Linked DNA regions of Homo sapiens. The protein of the gene in region 1 interacts with the protein of each later gene in a pairwise test. Each region holds a gene or a part of one and is shown in the gene's direction. Other genes may lie near its edges.

What was found.
Region 2: the proteins of NFE2L2 (region 1) and CREBL2 interact in binary tests that used the Homo sapiens proteins (3 or more experiments, as listed by UniProt).
Region 3: the proteins of NFE2L2 (region 1) and ETV6 interact in binary tests that used the Homo sapiens proteins (3 or more experiments, as listed by UniProt).
Region 4: the proteins of NFE2L2 (region 1) and TEF interact in binary tests that used the Homo sapiens proteins (3 or more experiments, as listed by UniProt).

The regions. Positions count from the first base shown.
Region 1 is NC_000002.12:177,233,594-177,238,449, reverse strand, and holds part of NFE2L2 (nuclear factor erythroid 2-related factor 2), read left to right. Parts: intron 1-4,178; coding exon 4,179-4,445; intron 4,446-4,856.
Region 2 is NC_000012.12:12,610,156-12,615,641, forward strand, and holds the start of CREBL2 (cAMP-responsive element-binding protein-like 2), read left to right. Parts: upstream 1-1,720; 5' UTR 1,721-2,017; coding exon 2,018-2,032; intron 2,033-5,486. UniProt on the Homo sapiens protein: Probable regulator of CREB1 transcriptional activity which is involved in adipose cells differentiation. May also play a regulatory role in the cell cycle.
Region 3 is NC_000012.12:11,655,784-11,660,639, forward strand, and holds part of ETV6 (transcription factor ETV6), read left to right. Parts: intron 1-4,856. UniProt on the Homo sapiens protein: Transcriptional repressor; binds to the DNA sequence 5'-CCGGAAGT-3'. Plays a role in hematopoiesis and malignant transformation.
Region 4 is NC_000022.11:41,380,218-41,385,707, forward strand, and holds the start of TEF (thyrotroph embryonic factor), read left to right. Parts: upstream 1-1,724; 5' UTR 1,725-1,827; coding exon 1,828-1,984; intron 1,985-5,490. UniProt on the Homo sapiens protein: Transcription factor that binds to and transactivates the TSHB promoter. Binds to a minimal DNA-binding sequence 5'-[TC][AG][AG]TTA[TC][AG]-3'.

The DNA.
Region 1 (4,856 bases):
CCCTCAAATATTATCATCTGATGGGAAGGAAAAGGGGGGGAAAGGAAATTAAATAGTTATTTCAATTCTTGGCATGATTGACACTGACAATTATAAATTCCATTCAATATTTTCTTCCAGCTCATGAGGGTTGGTTGTAAGGATACTTTGCAAGTCAGATTTATGAGCAGAAGATGTTTGCAACCTAAATTGCTTCAGTTGCATGAAAAAGTCACAACCTTTTACTGATTTTTATCCTGGGATCTCCTTAACAAGAAAAAACCTCAGGCCCAGGAAGTCTAGGGTGAGGCAGGGATGTGTCAAAGTACACTTTTCCCCACGTACAGGGACAAGTATTTGAGTTTCTTTGATTGACTTTGCAAAGAGCTTTGCACACTTTGCACATCACTTCTTGAGATGGGTGGGAACATGGACTGCCTATTTTACAGAGTTCAATTAAGATCGCAGGATCATGCATTCCTTTCATTTTTGGTGCTAGTACCTAGAAGATGGGAACATATTGAACACTTAATACCTTGCTTGGGCAGATAGCTCCAGTTTGCAGAAAGTCTAGACAGGATACCCTGCTATGTATCTAGATTTACTGAGAAGAAGCGGCCCAAGCTAATCAGAATTTTAAAGTAGGTTTCTCAGCTGGGCGTGGTGGCTCACACCTGTAATCCCAGCACTTTGGGAGGCCGAGGCAGGCAGATCACTTGAGGTCAGGGGTTCGAGACCAGCCTGGCCAACATGGCGAAATCCTGTCTCTACTAAAAATAGAAAAATTAGCCGGGCATGGTGGCACGCACCTGTAATCCCAGCTATTCAGGAGGCTGAGGTGAGAGAACTGCTTGAACCCTGGAGGCGGAAGTTGCAGTGAGCTGAGATTGTGCCACTGCACTCCAGCCTGGGCGACAGAGCGAGACTCCGTCTCAAAAAAAAATAAAATAAAGTAGGTTTCTCTATACCTTTGAATTTTCTGTCTCCCATGATAACCTTTGGGTAAACATGTCCATCAGAATGGAAACAAATCATTTTTTAAAATAGAAATTATTCTCATACCTATTTTAGTGGGAATCCCCCTGAGAAGATAGCCATGTATAGTCGACTGAATGCTCTGTGGTTGCTATTTTGTTGCTCTTGGCCAGGAAACTGATCTAGGTGACCTACAGACTTAATCTGACCTGCAGACTGGCCGCTTCATACTACCAAGATTCCAAAGCCAAGTGTATATACAGTCGGCCCATGCAGCCTCTGGTTCCATGATGCAACCAATGGCAGATTGGTTCAAAAATATTTGGAAAAAGGCCAAGCACAGTGGAGTGGTTCATGCCTGTAATCCTAGCACTTTGGGAAGCTGAGGCAGGAAAATCAATGGAGCCCGGGAATTCAAGACCAGCCTGGGCAAAATGGCAAGACGCCATCTCTACAAAAAGTAATTAGCTGGGCTTGGTGGCATGTGCCTGTAGTCCCAGCTACTTGGGAGGCTGAGGTGGGAGGATCACTTGAGCCCAGGTGAAGGCTGCAGTGAGCCATGATTGCATCACCACACTCCAGCCTGGGTGACAGAGTGAGACCCTATCTCAAAATGAGTAAATAAATAATAAAATTTCAAAAGGAAAAAAGTGGAAAAAAAACCCGAAAAAATAACAATACACACATAAAATACAGTATAACAACTATTTACACAGCATTTACACTTTACTAGGTATTGTAAGTAATCCAGGGATGAGTTAAAGTATATAAAGGGATATGCATAGGTTATTTGCAGCAAATGCCATGCCATTTTATAATAGTGTAGGCTCATGGCTAATAAAGCATGAACCCGACTGAAGCTGCCTGGGTATGTGTCTTTGTTCAGCCACTTTCTGGTAGTATCTTTTTTCTTAACCTCAGTATTCTTATACTGTATAACAGGAATGTTTTCTCTGTATAAGGCTGTTTTGAGGAATAGTTTCTATATGTAAAGTACTTAGAACAGTGCATAGCATATAGGAAGCCCTTAATAGATACTGGCTTAAAGATAATTAGGTATGTCCTAGTGAGGTATACCTAACTACAAGTGCTACTTTAACTATGCCTACTTTGTGTGCTTTACAATATATATTGTTCAAGGCTAGAATAATGAGCCCCATGAGCAGGGTTTCATAGCATTTAAGATTCCAACGCCAACCTTCAATCATGGACACAGGTGGCCTGTGCCATCTAGCTAGCTGCGCTGCCTCCAGGCTGGGTGGCCTGCTCCTCTGTTGGATAAAAATAGCCTGACTCCTCACTGAAACAACCACCATGTTATTTGCGTCCTTGGGAAGCTGAAAGTAATAGAACTCTAAGTCTGGCGTTGCCAGCTGTCAGCAGAATGAAATGCAAAGTGTGACGTGTCTACACTGTACCCACTGGCCTTCAAGTCCCAACTCCCGTTCCCCCATCTTGATTTTTTTCCATTCTCAAATTAATTATTTCCCCTATAGGTGATTTGTGGAATGGAAACAGATTTAGATTTCCTACCTATTTAGATTTTTCCAAAGACTAAAATTACAAATCAGAAAAACTGCTATTGACACATTTTTGGTTAGGAAAATCTGGATGTGGTTCCTATGCCTAGCCTAGTCATATAAATTCTCTCCCCATGTATCTTTTTGTGTGTGTGAAACAGGGTCTTGTCACCCAAGCTGGAGTGCAGTGGTACAATCACAGCTCACCATGGCCTTGACTTCCTGGGCTCAAGCAATCCTCTCACTTCAGTCTCCCTAATAGTTGGGACTACAGGCTCGTATCACCACGTGCAACTAATTTGTTTTGATTTTGGGTAGAAACAGGTGTCACTATGGTGCCCAGGCTAGTAACTCCTGTGCTCCAGCAATCCTCCTGCCTTGGCCTCCCAAACTCCTGGGATTACAGGCCTGAGTCACCAAGCTCAGCCTCTCCTCATCAAAACCATTCCCTCTTTGTAAGATTCTTCCTATGTCTTAAAACTTAATACCTTTAATCCTTCCCTGGAGCCATAGTTTTATTTATTTATTTATTTATTTATGAGACAGGGTCTCACTTTGTTGCCCGGGCTGGAGTGCAGTGACACGATCATAGCTCACTGCTGCCATGACCTCCTGGACTGAAGTGATCCTCCTACCTCAGCCTCCTGAGTAGCTGGGACCACAGGTGTGCGCCACCACACCAGTTGTTGTTGTTGTTGTTTGTTTTTGTTTTGGTAGAAACAGGGTCTCTCCATGTTGCCCAGGCTGGTCGCGAACTCCTGGGCTCAAGCAATCCACCTGCCTCAGCCTCCCAAAGTGCTGGGCTTGTAGGCGTGAGCCACCGCACCTGTCCCTGTCTGCTTTTATTTTATTTTTTTTTGAGATGGAGTCTTGCTCTGTTGCCCAGGCTGGAGTGCAGTGGTGCGATCTCAGCTGACTGCAACCTCTGCCTCCCAGGTTCAAGCCGATTCTCCTGCCTCAGCCTCCTGAGTAGCTGGGATTACAGGCACGTACCACCACACCCGGCTGATTTTTGTATTTTTAGTAGAGACGTGGTTTCACCATGTTGGCCAGGCTGATCTCGAACTCCAGACCTCAGGTGATCCACCCACCTTGGCCTCCCAAAGTGCTGGGATTACAGGCATATAGGTAAGCCACAGAGATAAGAGTAGCAAGCAGTGATGGGGAGAAGATAATCTAGTGTAGGAAAGATGGAAAGAATGGTGATATTTCACAACTGCTAGATTGACACTTTAACTTGAGAGTTATCCCTCTATAAACTGGATATTTGCTGAGCAAAGTTTAAAGAAAACTCCATGTATTCAGTAATGTTTTCCAGACCCCACTTCTCTTATATAAGCCAGTGGCTTAGAGTGCTTGCTCTAATTTCTATATTCCATTAAACAAGGGTGGGATTTCTTCTCATTCAAACCATTTGTGACTTTGCCCTTTAGTGACCTCTACCATCACCCTATCATTAATGATCCAAGTGATTAGAATGGATGGCTATGTGTTTGTAGGTTGTTTGTTGTCTTTAATGAATAGATTCATTGAATGGAATTAACTGTGCTCTTCTAGAACATTGGATCTGTGTTCTCATTTAGATTGTATTTGTAATCTCCCCACTTCCCACCATCAACAGTGGCATAATGTGAATTAATTTATGTGGTATCTGTCATTTAAAAAACATGAGCTCTCTCCTTCCTTTTTTTGTCTTAAACATAGGACATGGATTTGATTGACATACTTTGGAGGCAAGATATAGATCTTGGAGTAAGTCGAGAAGTATTTGACTTCAGTCAGCGACGGAAAGAGTATGAGCTGGAAAAACAGAAAAAACTTGAAAAGGAAAGACAAGAACAACTCCAAAAGGAGCAAGAGAAAGCCTTTTTCGCTCAGTTACAACTAGATGAAGAGACAGGTGAATTTCTCCCAATTCAGCCAGCCCAGCACATCCAGTCAGAAACCAGTGGATCTGCCAACTACTCCCAGGTACAGAGTACTCAGTTCTTGGGAAAGTTATGGCAGGTTTAAGGAAACACTGAGCAAGGAATTAAAATATCTGGATTTGAGTTCCAGCTTTGCCTTTCTTTTACTTAACCTTGTCAAATCTACTTTCCAACCTCAGCCTCCTGATGAGTTCAGTACCTAACCTGAGTTCAGTACCCAACCTATTGATCTTAACAGTGTTATTGTGAGGATTGGGAAGACTTAAGTTACACCAAAGAGTTTTGTAAAGTATAGAAACATCCTGTAAGGATCAAGTAGCAGCAACAGAAGTAGTAGCAGGAGAACCAAGTAGCAGGGATTACTGGCGTTACTGTGTGTGGCAAGCACTGTTTTAAGAACATATACTGACTGATTTAATTAACACAACTATATTAATTAGTTACCATTATCCCT
Region 2 (5,486 bases), on another chromosome or scaffold:
GTTTAAGCCATTCTCCTGCCTCAGCCTCCCACGTAGCTGGGATTACAGGTATGCTCTCCCAGGCCTGGCCAACTTTGTATTTTTAGTAGAGATGGGTTTCTCCATGTTGGTCAGGCTGGTCTCGAACTCCTGACCTCAGGTGATCAGCCCACCTCGGCCTCCCAAAGTGCTGGGATTACAGGCGTGAGCCACCATGCCCGGCTGAATTTTAGATCATTTTCATCACCTCAAAAAGAAACCCAGTACTCATTAACCGTCACTCTCCTTTCCAGGATCCCTCCATCCCTGCCATTCTTCAACCCTAGCCCTTGGCAACCACTAATGGATTTTTTGGTCTATTTAGATGTGCCTGTTCCAGACACTTCATTATAAATGGAATCATACAATATGTGGCCTATTGTGTCTGGCTTTTTTCACTTCACATAAAGTTTTCAAGGTTCAGACATATTGAAGTGTGTATATCCCTTCATTTTTTTTCATTGCTGAATAATATTTCTTTCCTTTTTTTTTGAGACAGAGTCTTGCTCTGTTGCCCAGGCTGGAGTGCCGTGATCACAGCTCACTTCAGCCTCCAACTCCAGGGCTCAAACGATCCTCCCACCTGGGCCTCCCGAGTGGCTAGGACTACAAGCACCACCACCACACCCAAGTAATTTTTAAATTTTTTGTAACACACCCAACTAATTTTTAATTTTTTTTGTAGAGACTGCATCTTACTATATGGGTCTTCTTCCTTCTTCTTTCTTCTTCCTTCTTCTCCTTCTTCTTCCTTCATCGTTCTTCTTCCTTCTTTCATTCTTCTTCTTCTTTTTTTTTTTTTTAAATACAGTGTCTGGCTCTGTCGCCCAGGCTGGAGTGCAGTGGTACAATCTTGGCTTATTGCAGCCTCTGCCTCCCAGGCCCAAGTGATCCTCTCATGTCAGCCTCCCCAGTAACTGGGATTACAGGCATGTGCCACCACACTCGACTAATTTTTGTATTTTTTTGTAGAGACAGGTTTTGCTATGTTGCCCAGGCTGGTCTCGAACTCTTGGGCTAAAGCAATCCTCCCGCCTCGGCCTCCCAACGTGCTGGGATTACAGGCGTGACCCACCACCCCTGGCCAGTATTTCTTAATTTGTATAGTCCACACTGGTTTATCCATTCATCCAGTAAAGGACATTTGCGTTGTTTCCACTTTTTGACTATTATGAATAATGCTGCTAGGAAAGAACATTTATATACAAGTTTTTGTGTAGTCACTCGTTTTAATTTCTCTTGGGTATGGGAGTGGCCAATATTCTGAAGAACTGCCAAATTTCTTCCCAAAGTAGCTGCACTATTTTACATACTTAGTTTTTGTTTTTCGTTTTTTTTTAAATAAAGAACCTTTAGGGTTTCCTCAGCGTCCCAGAGGAGGGCCTGCTTCCGGCACCCCGCCTTCAGGGCTGCCTCCGCAGAGCACCAAACTCCCGTCCCCGCCATTCCAGGCCCTGGCACTTAGGAGCCAAAACCTCAGGTCAGGCGCACTTTGGGCCTCCAGCCCAGCCCCGCCTCCTCAGCGCTAGCTAGTAGGCAAAAGGAAAACAGCTGCCCCTTAATGAGGCTATGTGGACATCGTAGTTTTTTTTCCAGTCAGTAGCGCAGAGACTGTGATAAGAAAAATCACAATTCCCAGAATGCCGCGGTGCTACGGCAGCCGAAGGGGCCATTCCGTGTGCAGCGCTCCCGCCCACCCTCCGGTCTCGGCGGCTCTCCAGAGCGTCTGTAAACACCCAGAGACTGTCATGGAGGGGGAGGAGGAGGCGGCGGCGGCGAAGGGAGGCGTTTGGGGCCGCCTCCAGGGTCCGCTCTGCCATTCCTGAACTGGTCCCTCGTCCCCGTGACTCTGGCATCAGGGAAGCGAACTGTTAGGCGAGAGGAGGAGGCAGCCAGAACCATATCCCCTTCTTCCTCGGGGCGGGGGCCGGGCCAGGCCGGCTGAGCCGGGGGAGGGCTCCGGGAGGGAGTGCCTGGCCAGGCCGGCCTGTCTGCCGCGATGGATGACAGTAAGGTAAGTCTTGTGGTTTGCACGCGCCGCCGCCTTCTTGTCGCTCAATGCTAGTCCCGCGGCTGAACCTCCGCTATGTAGTCCACGCCAACACCCAAGAGACACCTGCCTAAAACATCCCTGCGCCTCTCCAGTCCACTGCCCGATGGTACCCAGCCAGGAAATCAGGGAACACCGGGGCTGCGTTTTTCCAGGAAGGGCCCTCTCTGGAAATTTTTCACTCCCAGGGCGTTTGCTAGCTTTCCAGGTAGTGCAACCCCTAGTCCTTAACTTGCCTGTCGAGATAAGAAACTACTGTACTTTTTCTTCTTGCACTTTTTTGCTGCCTCCTCTCTCCAGTTTGGAGACTTTAGTGCACGCTGAACCAGCCTTATTCCCCTTGACGATTCCCCTTCTCTCAGGCTCCCTTACTCAATGCCCCATTCATATAATCAGTTCACTCCCCCTCTGAGCTATTTCCTGTGGTTGGTTGGAACACCGCTAAGCTCCTGTTGCTATTTGGCCAGTGTGGAGTTTAACCTCCACTAGAAAGCCTTCTCTAAAAAAATACTGATTTTCCTCTTGTTAACTTTAATAGCCCATCACCATCCAATTTCCCTGTCCAAATCACTTACTTTATGATTATAAAATAATAGATAATGTTCATTATTGGTTAATCCAAATAGTTTATCTATGTATAGCCTTTTTGTCTTTATTTATTAATTGAGACGGAGTTTCGCTCTTGTCGCCCAGGCTGGAGTGCAATGGCGCGATCTCGGCTCACCACAACCTCCGCCTCCCGGGTTCAAGCGATTCTCCTGCCTCAGCCTCCCGAGCAGCTGGGATTACAGGCATGCACCACCATGCCCGGCTAATTTTGTATTTTTGGTAGAGATGGGGTTTCTCCATGTTGGTCAGGCTGGTCTCGAACTCCCAATCTTAGGTGTCCGCTCGCCTCGGCCTCCCAAAGTGCTGGGATTACAGGCGTGAGCCACCGCGCCTGGCCGCCTTTCTCTCTTTACATCTACCCACATTAGTGTTGTTTAGTTTTATTTCCTGAAGATAGGGATGGTCAAAGATTTGTTTATTGATGTTTCAGGTTGTTTTGGATTTGGACTTTTTTATTTTAAGGAATCAGACTTCTAAAATTTGCCAGTTTTTAAAGTAAAAACCGTCCTTCTTTGTGCTTCTCAGCGTCTTCTGTTTCACAGTCTTTGGCATACTCTTTACGATAGCTTTGTCCTTTGTTTGGGTGTCTTTTTTTGCTGCTGCTGCAGTTTTTGTTTCACATATCCTCAGAGAGATTCAAAAAATTTCCAACTTCTCTGTGTTCCTTGTTTTATTCTTTCCTTCTTGTTTTCTCTTCCTCTTCATGTAGAAGGCTGTGAGGAAGTGACAGATGGAAGGGAAAGCCCAGTGCAGTACTCTGGAATTGTTACTCACCTAGAGGAACGGATTGCTTGTGAAGTAGTAAACCCCTCTTAATAGGAAGTGGTATTTCCAAGACAGAAGGGGGGCGAGTTTCAGGAAGCTATCAGCTCATAAGAGTGCTTAATATGCTCAGTACACACATTAATTCCCTTGACAAGAATCTTGCCCTTGTTTGTTTACAACAATGCAACAGAATGCGGGATAACATTGTAGACTCTTCAGTTTTACTATAGTAACATTCGTGGGGTATGATATTGGGGAAGTGGTATTTCCAAGACAGAAGGGTAGCGTTCTAAAAGTTTTCCAGAAAAATCAGCAAGTAATTTTTTTTTTTTTTTGCTTTGAATATTTCTTTGGGGAGGGGACATCACACTTCTTTCTTTTTTCTTTTTTTTCTTTTTTTTTTTTTTTTTTTTGAGACGGAGTCTCCGCTGTATCGCCCAGGCTGGAGTACAGTGGCACGATCTCGGCTCACTGCCGAGAATTGCTCTTGGGTTCAAGCAATTCTCCTGCCTCAGCCTCCTGAGTAGCTGGGACTACAGGCGTGTGCCACCACATCCAGCTAAATTTTTATTTTTCGTAGAGACAGGGTTTCACCATGTTGATCAGGCTGGTCTCAAACTCGAGTGACCTCAGGTGATCCGCCCACCTCAGCCTCCCAAAGTGCTAGGAATACAGGTGTGAGCCACTGCGCCCGGCCAGGACATCACACTTCTACTCAATGAAGATAAACGTTTTTACACCTTTTGTCTTTTTTACCCCTATTATGCCACGAATTCATAGGGAATAAGTTCTAGTAGCTCAGGCTGTTTTCCACTGGTGGAGTAGGCTGGTGCTTCAATTGAACCCAGGTACCTTTCTTATTTAGTTTCCTTTTTTTTTTTTTTTTTTGAAATAGGGTCTTGCACTGTTGCCCAGGCTGGGGTGCGTTGGTGTGATCACAACTCACTGCAGCCTCGAACTCCTGGGCTCAAAGCAATCCTCCACCTCAGCCTCCCAAGTGGCTGGGACTACAGGAATGCACATCCATTCCTAGCTAATTTTTTGCAGAGATGAGGGTCTCACTGGCTTTTTTTTCTGATCATTTTCCTTCACACGTTTCTGGAAGCTGTCAGCTCTTAAGAGTACTTAATATGCTCAATATACACATTAATTCTCTTGGCAAGAATCTTTCCCTTTTTTGTTTACAACAATGCCAACAGAATGCTGGGTAACATTGTAGACTCTTCCAGTTTTGCCATAGTAAGATTTGTAGGGCATTAGTTTTTTTTTTTTTTTTTTGAGATGGAGTCTCTCTCTGTCCCCCAGGCTGGAGTGCAGTGGCACGATCTCAGCTCACTGCAATCTCTACCTCCTGGATTTAAGCGATTCTCCAGCCCCAGTCTCCCGAGTAGGTGTGATTACAGGCATGGGCCACCATGTCCGGCTAATTTTTTTTTGAGACAGGGTCTTGCTCAGTCGCCCAGGCTTGATGCAGTGGTGCAGTCTTGGCTCACTATAAACTCCGCCTCCCGGGTTCAAGTGATTCTCCTGCGTCAGCCTCCTGAGTAGCTGGGATTACAGGTGCATGCCACCACAACCGATTAATTTTTGTATTTTTCTTAGAGATAGGGTTTATTAGAGCCTGCCATGTTGGCCAGGCTGACAGGGTTTTGCCATGTTGGCCAGGCTGGTCTCGAACTCCTGGCCTCAAGTGATCCGCCCACCTCGGCCTCCCAGAGTGCTGAGATTACAGGCATGAGCACTGCACCTGGCCAACTTTTTGCATTTTTTTTTTTTTTTAACAGAGACAGGGTTTCATCATGTTGGCCAGGCTGGTCTGGAACTCCTGACCTCAGGTGATCTGTGTAAGGTATTCCCTTTTAAACAGTCCCCATTCCATTGATGTCTAAAATATCAACCTTCTTTTTTTTTTTTTCTTTGAGACGGAGTCTTGCTCTGTCACCAGGTTGTAGTGCAATGGTGCGATCTTGGCTCACTGCAACCTCTGACTCCCTGGTTCAAGCAATTCTCCTGTCTCAGCCTCTGAGTGGGGATTACAGGTGTG
Region 3 (4,856 bases), on another chromosome or scaffold:
GGCTTGATTAGAAAAGGTATTGCCCCGTGTTAAGTGTGGACTCTCAGATGAGCATAACTGCTCACTCAGCCCTATGGATTTCGCTTACAGGAAACGGTAGAATGCTTGCATTTCTGAAACTTTGTAAATTCTCTGTAATTAAAGGTGTTCGTCTGCTGTTTTAGTGGCCGTTGTTCTACAACAACCAGTTGTAGCTTACAGCTATATAGTGATTTATTACAAAACACTTTCTTCTTCTCCTTTTCCTTCTTCCTCTTCCTCCTCCTCTTCTTCTTCCTCCTCCATCATCATCACCGGCATCATTTATTGAATGCTACTGCATGCTGGTCCTTGTGCTGTTTTATATACATTATATACATTATCTCATTTACTCTTCACAGCTCTCTATGGATGCAGTTTTTCTCTCCATTCTACAAATGAGGAAACTGAAGCCCAGAGAGGTTAAGTGATGTATTGGCCTAAGACCTCGCAGGCTGTAAGTGGCAAAGCTAAGGCCAGAATCTCTACTGTGGGACTCTAATTCCAAAGTATTTTCTATGAGGGCATTCCAAAGTGCAGCCATTTTTGCGAAGAAAATTAGGAAACTTGAAGTGACGGGTGGCTGGTGGATTGTTACATAAGCCGAGATGAGAGGCAGGAATAGAGCTGGCAGAAGTGCTTGCAGAGGTTCTGAATTTCCTCTGCTTCCTGGTCTCTTCTGAAGATGGGTCTTCCTAGCCATTACACAAGTAGCGGGGACAACCAGATGGTCACACAAAGCCACCACCCACTGTGGAATGAATGTCTAAGTTTTCCATATTTACCCCAGTCTCTAATGTCCTCTGGTGAAATTTTGTCTTTGATGGGTTTCATTTTGGGCCCTTGTTGTTTTTCTCAGATGCCTTTCTTTTCCTTGTGTTTTTCTTGCTTCCTCCGGTGCTTAATGGCTTCTTCATGAAGCGGTTGGAAATCTGAGAGATTGTGTCATCCTGCCCGGCCTCGGGCTAGACACCTTCTTTGCCTGCTTTTTACTTCCTGGTCAGTTGCTTCTCCTTATACAACTTTTTTTTTTTTCCTTTTAAAGCTTTTCACACAATCCATAAACACAAATTTTTGTTTTTCTTAAACCATCTCTCATGTACATCTTTAATATTATGTGATTTCCAGGAATCTATTTCAGATATTCCCTCATTTTCCCCTATAACAAAAGGAATCATCTTTTTTTGACTCCTGTCTCGATGGCTTGACCCAACTCGCCTGTTCTAATTTCCTGGAATGAAGAGAGCATTTCGGCCATCTGACTTTATACATTTCTGATTTTGAACGACTCTAGTGAAGAGAGTCTTCAGAGCAAATGTAGGGAAAGAAACAGAGAAAGAGAGAGATGTGTTGTGGAGATAATATGAGGGGATTCAGAGAGCATTATCCAAATTTGTCATGAAGCAAATGAGGAAACTGAGTCTTGTGGCGTTTAAAGAGCTTGCCTGAGATCACATTCCTAACTGATCAAGCCAGAGTCAGAATCAGTGTTCCATCCTAGGTCCATGTTCCTCTAACACCATAGCAGAGGAAAAATGAGAAAAAACAGGCAAGAATTCAGAAAGCATAGCTTCCTTTTGAAGATTCACATGACATATTAGTGTTCATCATTGTGACTTCCAAGTGAAAGACAGAGTTCATGTTATGAGATTTAAGAAGTGAAGAAAGAATGCAATGTATTTTGGAAAGATATCTAACAAAAATGGTTGGCATAAGAATAATGTTAAGTTTTAAAAGGCTAAGCTTCAGTTACGTGGATGAATGATTTATGAAAAGTACTCCCCCATGAAGACACAAAAGAGGTAGCCAATGCATCTGCAAGTTCTTGAGGCCTGATGGCCTCCCTGGGGGTATTTTCCCTTTGTATGTGGGAGTCAGATATACGGAAAACGACTTCATTTCCTGAATGACCCAAAAAGGACGCATTGCCCTGCTGAGTGCCAGTTGGTGAGTGTGCTCAATGGTGTTAGTGTTGCCACAGTGTAGTTCCAGTCACCACGTCTTTCGATTTTGACTTACATTTTCTTCTGTCTTATGTTGTTCTTTGGTTCTTACCTGTAAAGCTGACTTCCCTTCAGGAGATTGTAAGGTGCTCAGAAAAGGGCTTTACCTCACTGCCATGCTGTGAATTCTCCTAGGGGAAGAGTACAGACAATGGAGTAGACAGACCCATGAATCCTGGTTCCTGAACTTGAACTTGTTCAAGCTACTTAATCATGAACCTGTTAACTCATCTGAAGTGGTAATAAAAATGTGTCTCTTAGGGTTGTTGGGATATGTACATTGCCCAATGTAGTGCTTTATACTGTTAAAAAGTTAGTTCTCCTCCTCCTTTATACATCCTCCATAACACATGGATCTGGAAGAGGCTAGAGATTTTCTGGTTCTGTGCCCACATTATACAGTTGAGAATACAGAGGCCAGGGGATGGTTTGTTTTTGTTTTTGTTTTTGAGACAGAGTCTCGCTCTGTCACCCAGGCTGGAGTGCAATGCCGAGATCTCAGCTCACTGCAACCTCTGCCTCCCAGGTTCAAGCAATTCTGCTGCCTCAGCCTCCTGAGTAGCTGGGATTACAGCTGTGCACCACTCACCTGGCCAATTTTTGTATTTTTGGTAGAGACAGGGTTTCACCATGGTGGCCAGGGTGGACTCAAACTCCCGACTTCAATTGATCCTCCTGCCTCGGCCTCTGAAAGTGCTGGGATTACAGGCGTGAGCCACTGTCCCCGGCCCCCGGCCAGGGATGTTAATGGCCTTGCTCAAGCTCGTGTGGCTAGTTGGTGGTGCCATCTGAACTAAAATCTAGGCCTCCCGAGTCAGCTGACTCCCTGCACAGTGCTCTTGTCACTGTCCCATTGAGTTGTTCACAGGGCTGGGGTCACTCAGTCAGTGCTCAAAAAAGCTCTTATTTTAACTTTAATTGAATACAAGCCTCAACAATAGGAGAGATGAGCCAAGTGCAATTATATGATAATAGCAAATGCCTTTTGCATCTTACAGCAGAATTTTGAAGGAATAGCTAATGTGGTTCTGAATAAGTTTCCAGAGATGAAAGAAAAGGAAAAAACCTAAGTCTGGAAGTACTGTACAGTGAGTCTAACTAGCATTATTACTCAGCGCTCAAGTATTTGAACCTATTCAGGGATCTGCTCCTTCATACAGTTGCTTATTATTTGTGACTGGGGTGAGACTTGAAAGAGAGCATCAATTCTCCAGTCTGCTTTTGTTTAACAGGCAGTTCCATGTCTGTCTGACCACAGAACAGACACTGTTTGCTGTGGGCTGGTGAATGTTCACTTTCAAGAGCAGGGAGTAGATGGCCCTTCGTGGAAGTTTAATTATACAGAAGAGTTTGAAAAGGCCAAGTTTGTTACTTTGGGGCATGGGGAAACCTTCCTCTCTAGCAGATGTGAGGGGACCGAAGTGTCTCTTTTCAGCAGTTGTATTCTTCTTGCTGTGGACCTAAATTCGATCCTAAGTCATTCTTTGTATGTACATGGCAGATGAGAAGATGAACTATAGACTGGAAAATAACCCTTTTTTGAGGAATTGTGGAGAAAATGTTACCCACCTGTCCCTCCTACCACCATGCAATAAGTGTGGGCTACTTAATACTCTTGAAGCAAGAGTTTAGGTTTGGAGAGAAACTGCTCCTCTGATCTTCTCCTGGAAACCACAAGTGGAAGTTTGTGATTTTCTTCTCAGCTGCCCTGTCCCCTCTCCCTTGGGTTATGACAGGCCGTGTAACTTTATCTTTCTTAGGACTTATCTCTTTGATGAGGTCAGTAATCCTGCTTCACTTACGTCCCCTATACGTAAGATTGCCATAACCAAAGATGACATGCAGACTCTAAAGCATTTCCTGGAAAAAATGAGCTACAGATAGAAGTAAGGCTCGTAATTTAAAAAATCGAACCCCAGAGAACAGCCTGTCTCTGAAGTTAACCATTCCCCCAGTACTTTCTCTTGTTTCCCTGGTGAAAGTGTGAATCTGGGTTGTGGCAGGGGAAGTTCTGGCACTGCTAAGAGGTGAGGAAGGAAGAGGGAGGGCCCAGAGCTGCCCACCTCACTTGCAGGTGTGGCCTGGAAGAGTGCCGGGGTCTCTAATGAAGAATCAAGTTCAAGGGATGAAGAGGAGTTGGCGAAGGGGCACAAAAATACAGCTAGATAGAAGGAATGTGTTATAGTATTCATTAGTATAATAGGGAAATTAGAGTTAACAATTTATTGTGTATTTCAAAATAACTAGAAGAATTGTACTGTTCCTAACACAAAAGAAAAATGTTTGAGGCAATAGATATGCCAGCTACCCTGATCTGATCATTACACATCTGCACAGATATCAAAATGTCACATGTACCCCCAAAATATGTACAACTATTATATATCAACAAAAAAAATCAAAGAGACAATTTAGAATAAGTATGGTCTCAAGCCTAGTGACTAATATGTGGACAAGTAGATCTGCACTAGGGTATACAGGAGGAAGTATTATGGAGACTTCATAAAAAGGGAGATGGGGCGGGGCGTGGTGGCTCACGCCTGTAATCCCAGCACTTTGGGAGGCCGAGGCGGGTGAATCACCTGAGGTCAGGAGTTCAAGACCAGCCTGGCCAACATGGTGAAACCCTGTCTCTACTACAAAAATTAGCCGGGTGTGGTGGTAGGTGCCTGTAATCCCAGCTACTCGGGAGGCTGAGGCAGGAGAATCTCTTGAACCTGGAAGGTGGAGGTTGCAGTCAGCTGAGGTTGTGCCACTACACTCCAGCCTGGGCGACAGAGTGAGACTCTGTCTCAAAAAAAAAAAAAAAAAAGGGAGATGGGGGACATGGTGGGA
Region 4 (5,490 bases), on another chromosome or scaffold:
CTCGGCTCCCTGAAACCTCCACCTCCCAGGTTCAAACCGATTCTCGTGCCTCAGCTTCCCCAGTACCTGGGATTACAGGCGCCAGCCACCATGCCCGTCTAATTATTTCTGTACTTACAGTAGTGTCGGAGTTTCGCCCTGTTGGCCAGGCTGGTCTCGAACTCCTGACCTCAGGTGATCCGCCACCTCTGCCTCCCAAAGTGCCGGGATTACAGGCGTGAGTCACCAAGCCCAGCCCCAGCAAAATTCTGATTGCATCAGCTTGATAACTTTTAGCTGGCTGTGGGTGTCTGGATCATGCATCTACCCCCTGAACCAAGGACTATCACTATACCACCCCCCCAACCCCTCCTGCTAGAAGGGCTGGGCCACTGTAGGGATGCTGGATAAACAAGCCAAGCTCTCTGCCTTCCGGGAGTTAAGCGGGGAGTCTAATGTTGCCTGGGTTTGCAGCGGAGTCTGATCTGTACTATAAAGAGGTACAAAGTTCTGAGCGCTGTTTAGGAGCAGCTTTCCATTTGTGTACCGCGCCACATATTACATTTTTACGGATTTCTGCGGAACTCCCGGGGAGGCTTTATATTTTAAGAGAGGAGGTGGTTCTCCCACAAAACGTGGCATCGGTACCTGGTGTCAAGGAGGTTTTTGTTTTCTAGGTAAAAGAAGGGAGAGTTCTAGAAAGGAAAAGAATTTCACATCTGTTTGGGACTGTGGAGATTCTCTAGCCCAACCTCTTAATTTTATGGCCGAGGAAACAAGCTCCAGTGAAGCAACCGGACTTTCCCAAGGTCATAAGCTAGTAAGTGGGAGGGCGGAAACATGTACTCGGGCCCTGGCTCAGGTCAGAGCTTCAGGAATGCTCCCTCCACGCTAGTGTTGATCTGGATGCGTGGGCAACCCGACACCCCGCTCTAGGGCGGCCAAGCCTGCTCAGGCCATCCCTACGACTTGGCAGGTCGCGGTCCCCGGCCCTGCCCTCAGGCGACCTCTGGGTCGCGTGGGAGCAGAAGTGCGGGCTAAGCTCAGCGTCCCTGCCCCGCGACCCTGGGCAGAGTCCCCAGAACAAAAAGACCCGTCCCTCCCTTCCCCTCCCGCCCCGCCACAGCCCCGCACGTGCGGCGCCTCGTGCACCGCCCCGGGCCCCGCCCCCGCCCTCCATTGGCTGTTCCCGCGCCTTCCTCCTCTGCCCCCTCCCCCCGCGACCAGACTCGGCTGCGGCTCCACGTGACCCGCGGGGGGTGGACACGCCGCGCGAGCAGGAGCTCGGATAGGTCGCTTTGGCCGGCCTGGCCGCTCCGAGCTCCGCCCCTCTTCGGTGGCGCGTCGGGAAGGTTGCAAGTCGGGGACAAGAGGGAGAGGCTGCGGTGGTTGGGGAGGGCGGGGGTTATGAAGAGGGCGGTGAAGGGGGAACACTGGTAGGAGGGAAGGGACCGCGCCGAGGAAGGCCCACCACAAAGACTCCAGCAGGCGCCAATCAGGGGACACAGGGGCGGCGGGGCGGGGCCTCCGCGAGGGTCCTCACCTGGCCCCGCACGTGTCTATCTTATCCCGGCTGCCCGACCAATCACGGCCCGAGGATCTGCGCCTGCCCCTCTCGCAGGCTGGACCAATCCAGAGCAACGATCCGGGGAAGCTGGCCTGGCCTCATGAATAATTAATGTGCCAGAGCCGGTCCGCAGGCGGGGTAGCGATGGAAGGAGGCGGGGGCGCCATTGGGCGCCTGCGCAGTAGCTGCCCGTGTCGGCAGCTGCAGCGGGTCGCACGGCTCCGGCCCATCTCGGGGGGCGGGCGGGGGAGGCGAGGTGCGCGAGCCGAGTCCGGGGCACGATGTCCGACGCGGGCGGCGGAAAGAAGCCGCCTGTGGACCCGCAGGCAGGACCCGGTCCGGGGCCGGGGCGCGCAGCTGGGGAAAGGGGCCTGTCGGGGTCCTTCCCCCTGGTCCTGAAGAAGCTGATGGAGAACCCCCCGCGCGAGGCGCGCCTCGGTGAGGGCGGGGGGGTGGTCCGCGCGGGCTGGGGGCGGGGCTTATACAGGGGCGGGGCCTCGTGAGGGCGGGGCCGGGGAGGCAGTGGGTCAGGGAGCAGTGGTCCAGCGGAGGGGGATGGGGCCTGGATGACCAGGAGCCTGGAGGACGAGGCCGGGGGGCTGAGGACAGAGGGTCAGGGGCGGGCTGAGACGGTGGGTCTGGCGGGAGAGGGTGGGGAGAGGTTTTGAGGAGGCGGAAGGGGATCGGGAGCAGTCACTTAAATGACGCTCCAGGGCCCCTCCCCCGGGGCCACCTGCATCGGAGTCACTCGGGATGCCTGTTTAAATTGCTGGTTCCTGCGCCCCACCCAATCTGCGGTCACTGGGACAGGGGTCTTGCATTTTAAGGAGCACCCCACCGCACCCCCATTATTTTCCAAGTACACCAAAGTTTAGGAAGCGCAGGCCTAGGGTAGCGAACTGTCATCGTACGTGGCCTTACCCCTCCCGGAGGGACCTGGCTTCCTCCCTGGGTGTGAGTAGCGCCAGCTACTAGGTCCAACGGGAGCCTTTCTGTTGCGGGGCTTCTGCTGAGCGGGTGGGGGGGGTGTGGGCGAGTAGTGTGAGGCGCCTTGGGAGGGGAGTTTTGGGCCAAGCAGAGAAACGATGAGGGTCAGATGAGTCCACTGAGGCCCTTCGCCTGGTTGGTTGGGGCTGACCCTTAGATTCTGGGGCCACGGCGGCAGGACTGAGCTTCATCTTTTTGCCTAGGCCAGGAACGTCACTGGGGCGTATACGGAAAGCAGGTCTGGCCTTGTTTTTCGCCCTGGGAGATGGGGTGCAGGGAGCAGCAGGAGGGCCGCCTGTGGTGGGGTTGTGGGTGCACTGAGGTATACTTTGAGTGTGAGACCTTTGCATTTCCAAGAGCCATCAGTTATTCAGGGTTTGGGAAAGGGATAGGCCTTCGAGAGTTGTCTGGCCTGGGGAATGGATTTTCCTTTTTAAAATGCCATTTCTCTTCCTTTCCTGGGTGTATGCTGAGGCTCCCATCCCTGTGGCTGTCACTGTTGAGTTATAAATAGCTTCAGCACATCAGGTGAGGCCAGCCTCTCTCCTCCTGCTTTGGGACCTCATGTGCACAAACCCTTTTGTTTGTTTTTGAGACGGTGCTTTGTTCCAAATCTGGGGCTGAGACAAGCTGCAGGGACAGGTGTACACATCTGACAGTTTCTTGTTTGAAATTACCAGGTAATAACCATCCATAACAAGAATTCTACCCGATATTCGTAGAGTGCTCGCAAAGCACGCTGACATCATCTTATTTCATTAACAGTCCTAGAGGGTATTCTCCCCTCTTCCCAGATGAGGAAAATTGAGGCTCAGGGAGGTGAGGGTGCTTCCTCAAGGTCACACAGCTATAACTTTTGACCCTCAGTTTGGTGCTCTTTCTACTGTATCATGCTGGCAGCCACTGTTGCATGACCTGAGTGATGGACTAGTCCTTTATCTCTTACAATTTAAAATTCCACCTTACAAAAACACTGATTTAAAGTATCCTTTATTGCTTAGGCCAGGCAAAACCTGGAACTTATTGTTGCCTGTCTTTCACTATGGCTGCTTTTCTATCTCCTGCCTTCTCCTGCCTCCTTTGATCCCAAATGACCCCACCCGACATGGGTCACAGTCATTTCTGAACAGAGTGAGGAGTCCAGATCTCAAGGGAGGAGAGCAGGAAGGCCATCTGGCCCACCCAGCCCACCAAGGCTTGACTTTCTTACTTCTCAGTTGGTTTTAAACCAAAGCCTGGTATAGAAAGCAGTTGCAGGAATTCAGATTAATTTGTATTAGAAAGCCATGACCAAGTTGTTTGTCAAAACCTCCACCTTCTTAACTCACTGGGTGTGTTCATTTTTATTGGACCAACAAGCTGCTATTTGGTCTGGGAGTCCATGTGTGGCTGGTTTATTTCCAACTTAATCATATTTGATTTCTCCTTTTCACTTATAAATCCAGAGTTCAAAATTGTCTCCCTCAATTTTGAAAACCCATCATGAGCTTGTCATGATTTTATCTCCCACTTCCCTGATTAGCCTCCCTGTCACTTTGATTTCCTTCCAACCTTGTCACATTGCTCTCTTCTCTTTTTTTAATTGCCCTCTCTTGGATATCCACATGTGTAACTTTGTGACTGAGACAATTGGGTAGATCCAGTCCCCACTAATTGATTAGTTTTCCTTTGAATAGGAGCAGTCTTTCTTCTTCAACTCCACCCCTCTCCTTCCTCCCAGAAAACCTGCCTTCAGTCTTTTCTGCTTATTCAGGAATAAAGGTCTCTTGAAATGGTTGCTCTGAAAAGGGTCCTGAAAAGACAGCTCCAGGCCCTTTCTAATAAACCTAACCTGAATCTGTTTGCAAATCCAATATTCTACAGTTAGTATATATATTTTCCCATAGTCCACCGTCTGCCTACCCCTTGTTGGGCCCTTGAGATCTGGAAATAAATCAGTTCATACTTTCAGTGAGCCCACAGTAACAATGATGCCTACAGTGTGCCAGGAACACTGTAAAGACACTTTTTTTTTCTTTCGAGACAGACTTTCGCCCTCGTTGTCCAGGCTGGAGTGTAGTGGTACAGTCTCGTCTCATTACAAACCTCCGCCTCCAAGGTTCAAGCAATTCTCCTGCCTCAGCCTCCCAAGTAGCTGGGATTACAGGCATGCACCACTATTCCTGACTGATTTTTTGTATTTTTAGTAGAGACGGGGTTTCACCATGTTGGTCAGACTGGTCTCAAACTCCTGACCTCAGGTGATTTGCCCGCCTCGGACTCCCAAAGTGCTAGGATACAGGCGTGATCCCACTGCGCATGGCTGTAAAGACACTTTCAAATGTTATCTCTGGCCAGGCCCTGTGGCTTATGCCTGTAATCCCAGCACTTTGGGAGGCCAAGGTGGATGGATCACCTGAGGTCGGGAGTTCAAGACAAGCCTGACCAACATGGAGAAACCCTGTCTCTACTAAAACAAAATTAGCCGGGCATGGTAGCGCATGCCTGTAATCCCAGCTACTTGGGAGGCTGAGGCAGGAGAATCGCTTGAACACGGGAGGCGAAGGTTGTGGTGAGCTGAGACCGCGCCATTGCACTCCAGTCTGGGCAACAAGAGCGAAACTCCTTCTCATAAAAAAAAAAAAGTTATTTCTAATCTTCACCAAAGAAACATCTTTATCCTTATGTACAGTGGAGGATACCAAGGCTCAGAGAGGTTAAGTAACATGGCTAAGGTCACACATCAAACAGCAAGTGGCAAAAATGGGACTCCTCCCTGGGCTGGGTTGCTGTGGAGAAGCATAACTGGAGGGAACAGGACAGGGGAACACAGAAGTTCTTGGCCTGAAGATCTCAGCCCTTTCTAAGCTAAGGTATCAGGAAAGGTCAGAGACTCCATTTCCCTCCTTGTAGTCTCTCTCCTGCAGATGCTAATCCTACAGCCTATTCTGTTTTTGTTTTTGTTTTTTTGTGACGGA